Linked DNA regions of Homo sapiens. The protein of the gene in region 2 purifies or fractionates together with the protein of the main gene of each other region. This does not show direct contact. Each region holds a gene or a part of one and is shown on either strand. Other genes may lie near its edges.

What was found. The genes of interacting proteins can lie anywhere in the genome.
Region 1: the proteins of ARL5B (region 2) and VPS13C purify together in Homo sapiens (affinity purification with mass spectrometry; one large-scale study listed by BioGRID and IntAct). This does not show direct contact.

The regions. Positions count from the first base shown.
Region 1 is NC_000015.10:61,920,948-61,924,447, forward strand, and holds part of VPS13C (intermembrane lipid transfer protein VPS13C), read right to left. Parts: intron 1,816-3,500; coding exon 1,450-1,815; intron 1,087-1,449; coding exon 1,000-1,086; intron 1-999. UniProt on the Homo sapiens protein: Mediates the transfer of lipids between membranes at organelle contact sites. Necessary for proper mitochondrial function and maintenance of mitochondrial transmembrane potential.
Region 2 is NC_000010.11:18,679,114-18,682,380, reverse strand, and holds the end of ARL5B (ADP-ribosylation factor-like protein 5B), read right to left. Parts: 3' UTR 742-3,267; downstream 1-741.

The sequences.
Region 1 (3,500 bases), on a different chromosome or scaffold from region 2:
GGTGATTATGTGTTGACGAGCAATCTAAGAGGACCCTGAAGTCTAAACTGATCCCTATTAGAGGTGCCACCTGGAAATGTTTCTCTCCTTCTATTTTTTAAACCAATAACACCTTCAAATAAGTAATATTAATATAATAAACACTTAACTAGCCATCAGATTCCATCAGCTTCTGTTCTAGTAGTATTTCAAAAGCCTTGTAAAACATTCTTTGTTAGCCTCCCTATGCCAGAGAAAGGCAGGTCAGAAAAATATTACTTCTTTATTGAGAGGAAATTGGAACACAGGTTAAGTGACTCATCTTTAACAAAAGAATATGTGGAGTCAGTTTCAGTGCCTGACTCCTTAGTAAGGCTGCCCCAAAGAAGTATGCTACGACAATTTCTTAACAATATATGACTCAAGTTCCTTTTAATCAAGAAAAATGTGCTTCAGTATCTAGGTTTCTGAGGTGTTCTCAAAAAACAACATAAAAAGATAACACACAAGAGTTCATTAACAATTCTCAAATATTCTGGTCTCACCCTTAAAAATCACTGAGTATACTAAAGAGCTTCATTTATGTTTTATCTACCAATATGTACTCTATTAACAATTAAAACTGAAAAAAAATTAAAAATTCATTTAAAAATAAAAATTACATGCTAATATAAATAACATTTTTAATCAAAAATAACTATTTTAAAAATACAGTGAGAAGAGGAACATACACATATATCTCTTTACTGCCTGCCTTAAGGGAAGACAGATAAATTCTCGTTTCTGTTCTGCATTCAATCTGTTGCAGTATCACCTTCATTAGTCTCTGGAAAACTCCACTATACACTCGTGAGAGAATGAGAATGAAAATGACATATGAAAAGAGTTCTGACCTCATGGACAGAGCCCTTAAAAGGGCTTCAAGGATCCTAGACCACATCTTAAGAATCACTGAAATAAAAACTATGAATGAATATGCATAGTATCATTCTATCCAAAGATATTTTAAGATTTCCTTACATCAAGCCTTAAATTCCATTGTCTCTTCCCCTCCACTCTCTCAATCAGTGGCTCCCAGACAGCATGGATCTCATTGTAATAGTGCACCTGGAAAGATACACACAAAATTATAAGACAGTCCTTTGGCTTTAATTACATATTTCTGTAACCAATAGGGAAATTATTAAGTAATCAATGTTATATATCATTAGCCATTTTCAAAACCCATCTAACAATATATAGAGTGTATTTTCCTTTACTCTCTTACTCTATTGTCATAAATTATTTAGCAAATCAATCTTTAAAAAATAATTATCAAAAAACAATACATCGACAAATTAAATGTCAGAACACACTATCTATTCACATATGTACTCATAGTGGCCATGCACAAACAAGAAAAGTGTATATCTTAATTCCAAAATCGCACTTTCAAGAAGTCTCTGAAGGTATTAAGTGATGTGGCCATACCTGTAGTGTCACGTCAGCAACAGCAGCCATTAGAGAAGTCCAATTTTTAATATTTCCTGAAAACTTAGACTCTGCCAATAATAAAGGTACAGTTCGATGTCCAAGGCCACATTCTAAGGTAACTTGAATGGATTCTACAACAACACCACAATTTTCCTCTATCAGTGAATGTTCAATGCCTTTGAAGCTTTCCGTTATTTCTGTTGCCGTGTCAACACCAAGAAACCAAGTGTTATAATCATTAATCGATTTGATACCCCAAAGATTTTCCATTTCCTTAGACGTATCTTTGGATCCATCTTCTTTTGTTTTTGGAGACAATGCAGCCATGATTGTCAACACAGTATTAAGAATTATGGGTGAAATCTTTAAAAAAGAAAGCAGAAAAATATTTATAATAAATTCTTTCCCAGATGAGAATATATACATACATGATTTTAAGTGACATACATTAATTATAAGTGACATTTTTAAATTAAATTTTAATTTTAAATTAAAGTAACTAATTTAAATTTTGAATAAATTCGTAACCAAGAAAAACAAGAGAGAACACAAAATTATGTGTCAAGCCAAGTAATCATGCAACACTGACTTCTACTCAGGTTATCTGGAATTAAATAACTAATGTTATATGTCAGTAGTCAAAATCTAAAGTTAAGCTGATCAATTCAGAGCAAAACAGTGTTATGTGAATAGACAAGTATAGCAATGTAAACAAATTCTTCATTTTAAAAACAGCTACATTAACTAAGCCAAAGTGTGTGATCCTTGTCAAGATACACATAAATATCGGTATGCAACAAGATCTTCTGAAAAAAAAAAAAAGGAAGAAAAAGATATACATTTGCCTTATTAAAGCTGGAAGACTCAAAATCACAGCTCTCCTTTGACTTACCCCAAGATCTATAAATCCTACCTCTTATTATCTTTGGACAGTGCCTTTCTTTGCTCACTTCCCTCACTTCCTATTACTGTGCCTTAGTTCTACACTGATGACATCTTCTACGGCCAACGCCCTCTCAGCCTACACTCCACACTGCCACCAGCATAATTTTTCTACAAACCAAATCTGAGTATGACATTCTTATGTTTAAAATCTTCATCAACTTCCCATAATTTTTTTATCCCACAAGATAAAATTGAAACTCTCTTTAACTTAATGTGCAGAGCTCTTTGTGGCCTAGTGCCTATTCAACCAGCTAGCCAGGATTCTCCCAAAGTTTGAGAAATACTAGGTTAAATAAGTTAACTGTATTCCTTTATTGTTCACTTCTCACAATCCTTACTTAAAATGTAAAGGGATATAATTATATCATCAAAAGCAGGATCTAGTATGTATTGTTTTCCTAACTTACTTGTCAACTTTTTTTCCGTGTCTTATTAATGTCACTTATAATTAATGCTTCCAGTCTTACAACGCCACCACACCATTCTCTCCAGCCATATGTGACCACCCCTCTAAATCTTTTTTTTTTTTTTTTTTTTTTGAGACGGAGTCTCGCTCTGTCGCCCAGGCTGGAGTGCAGTGGCGGGATCTCGGCTCACTGCAAGCTCCGCCTCCCGGGTTCACGCCATTCTCCTGCCTCAGCCTCCCAAGTAGCTGGGACTACAGGCGCCCGCCACTACGCCCGGCTAATTTTTTGTATTTTTTAGTAGAGACGGGGTTTCACCGTTTTAGCCGGGATGGTCTCGATCTCCTGACCTCGTGATCCGCCCGCCTCGGCCTCCCAAAGTGCTGGGATTACAGGCGTGAGGCCACCGCGCCCGGCCACCCCTCTAAATCTTAAAGGATTTTTTCACACCTCTGCCTTTGTGCATATTATCAGTTCTGTCTGGATAAACCTTTCCATGCTCCCCATCTATTTAATCTCCCTTCAAAACTCAAATCAAATAGTCCTGCTTCTACACAGCTTTCCCTGATGTCCTGGTCTGAATTAAAGGCCCCATGCCTGTGCTCCCAACTGCATCTTGGCCATGCCTCTAGCACTGAAAGCTGTAATCACTGATTTCTTTCTTTCTCCCGCATATGTCATTAAGTTTTTTGACAGCAG
Region 2 (3,267 bases):
ACCTGAAATTCCTAACCTTCTACTCAAAATTCCTAACTCTGTAATTATGAGTCATTTTTCTACGTAGGCAACTTTTATCACATTCCCAAAGAGGTCTGTGAGCAAAAACGGTGGAGTTAAAACCACTTTAGAGGAATGTGAAGAATGAACATAGTGAAAATGTTATCCCACTCATTATTAGATCTCAATTTTATTTTATTTTTTACAAGGACACAACTTTGGTAGATGATCCCAATTATACCCCACAATGGAGTACACACCAATCCGGATCACCTTCCCAGGCCAGGGATTCCCCTTCTCTGGTAAATGCACCTTCCACTTGGCCAGTTGTTTAGATCAGAGAGAGGAAATGACCCAATGCAGGCTAATGAACAATTTCCCTGGGGAATATGGAATTGTAATTGAAAGTCTAACAATAATCTGACTTCTCCCTTGTACAAATTTAGGAGGCTACTGGACTTGGGACATTATCTGTTATGTGGATCAGGAAACAGAGAAATCCAGTCAGGTGAAAGACAGAAACAGATGAGCAGGAAAAAAGGTAACTTCCTGCTTGCTCCTAAATGGTCCAGTCTCTAGTCTCAGTCTGTTCTACAAATCCAGTTGTTCCGTGGGTTCTGTGAGCCTCCACCACCTCACCCCAATTATCCTCTCTTTGTTGGCATAGGTGGGTTTCTATTATTTGCAAGCAAATAACTTAAAGCAGATTTACCTTTAAAAGAAAACACTGGATTCACTTCGTATTGGAAAAGTAATTATTTATTATGACAAAAATAAAACTGTTGAATGAAAACAAATGAATGTTACACTATATTGCACCATGATTGGAAATGAGCCAAAACCTGTCTAAAAGATGAACATTCCAGAGCAAACAGCATCGTTTTACTTGGGTTAAGTAGGCATGCAAACAACTCATTATAACATAATTGCAGAAATAAAAATTATGAGTACTGGCAACCTAAACTTAACATATAAAAGAAGCACTTCATAACTAATAAAGTATTAAAAACTTTAAAACATGTCATTTAAACAATCCCACCATCAGGAAAACATGCTTTGAACCATTTTCAAGAAGTGATCATGTGAATGCATTAATTTACTTGTTTTAAATTTTTTGTTGTTGTTGTTAATGCTTATATATTGGACCAATGGAACACATTTGTTTGGCTGGGGTTCAGACACACAGTTTGTGGTGTGAAAGACATTTTTCTTTCCTCTGCACAATACCGGAGGACCCACAGAGCAATCCAATTCCTAATTCTGACCTTATTAATACCATCTTCCAGTTGACCAAGCATAGTAATGAAGATATTCTTAGAGCTTTCGCAGAAAGCCTGAAGCTTAAGGAGTAACAACAGTTTGTATTTAAATCTTAAGAAATGCACATATATATGAATATAGACACTTTAAAGTTGTTTTGCATTCTGAGGCAAGAAATAATAAATACTGAGTACAGGGCCTGCTGCTTCCTCTTTAATGCTCTAAAGCACCAATTTATGTTAAAATAGCAAAGTGTGATTATAATCATTCACTCTGATTAGAATAAACGCAACACCAAGGTTGTAATTGCTGTTAGGTTTTTGTTGTTGTTGTTTTTAACATGCTCTGTGGAATAGATGAACATGGTAAAATTTGTAACTATTCTGTAATTGAAAAAAATCATGACCGTTTTATTTTACACTTTCACTGAAATAGCAGCTAAACTTTTTTTAAGTCATAAATAAAAGTTTTTGTAACTACACTCAACAGTTTACTCCAAGAGAATAAAATAGGGGCTTCAGAGTCCCTAAATTTCCTGAGGGAAAATATAAGATTAAAATGATTATGGTCTCTTGTGAATAGGGCTTAAATATGCAAATAAGTCACTGATGACTGGGATCAACTGATAGTCATTTGATATCTTACCAACACTGATGGAAATATATTCACAGTATAAAAGAATCCATCAAATTTAGGATTTCTCCTTTCCCTTATCTAATTAAACTAATTAAATATTGACTGAGCACTTTCCTATGTGCTTTAATGAAACCATATGTGAATCTCATATATCTACCATGTTGGCCCAGCTGGTAAACAAGAGTAAAACAAAACAAAGTCTCCAAGGAATGCTATCCCTTAGTTATGAATTTTGCATATTTCAAATACAGTTTGGGTGAAGGGGGTTTTTATGGGATGGTACAAACATCCCACAAACTTGAGCAAAGCACCTTATGGATTGAAAAATGAGGTAATTTTTTAATTAAAATTTTACAAGTTGTGCAAGAAAACATATCCATTCTTTTAAAACTTTGTTTTCTATTCCAAAAGCTATGCACAGCACATTTCATATTTCTCCATTTCCAGGAGAAAATGTAGATTACTGGTTTAAGAAATGCAAAAGATGCCTTTATGTGACTACAGTTCCAAATTCTAAAACCCTAATCAGTCTTCACTCCTTTGGCCACATTAAGAATAATACAGGCCATCTAGCTGTATGGTAAAAAGACAGTATTTTTTAGTAATTTTAAGTACCCTAAATACGAGGAGAGGCAGAAATTCACTGCTTTCATTCACATTTTCTCTTACCTAATATCCTTTTGAAGTTTTTTCGACCTCATGATATTGTCTTTACTTTCAAGTGCTTTGAATTTGTTTTTCGTATGCTTCTAAACCTCCAAATTAATATTTCCCAAATGTTTCACCAAACTATATACATTTAAAGCTGCCTTTAGGTCTGAGGGGCACAATTTTTTTTTCTGCTTTAAATTTAAAATGGAATAGTTGAACATATTTTTTTATATTGGTCTTCCTCTATTTATTTTGGTCCCCTAAAATTTTTTAAAAATACTTTTTTGGGGAACCTGGCTTTTGGATTTCAGTCTTCACAGTAAAAGTGAATGAATAAGGAGGAGACGCTACTGAAAAACTAACCTTGAATATAAACCACTTTCAGATTTATGTAGACATTTATGTAGACATTTGTAAAAGACTGACAACCTGGCTACTAACCCTACTCTTTCAATATGGAAAGTCACACAGAACTATAGACTGGGGTGGCATCAAACGGCAATAAACTCTGAACAAATTAACCACTTCCATTCAATTAGTACAAGCCAAGAAAATAAGGTAAATTATCTAGAAGAGAATTATTTCCAACACAGGCTGGTTCTTTCTAAGCAGCTTACTATCCTTTTCTTAGCAATATGGCTTGTTTTCTCTTTTGCATTGTCATTAGCTATTTCTATTCAGCTATTAATTCGCTGAATTTAAGTTGAATAGCAGTTACTG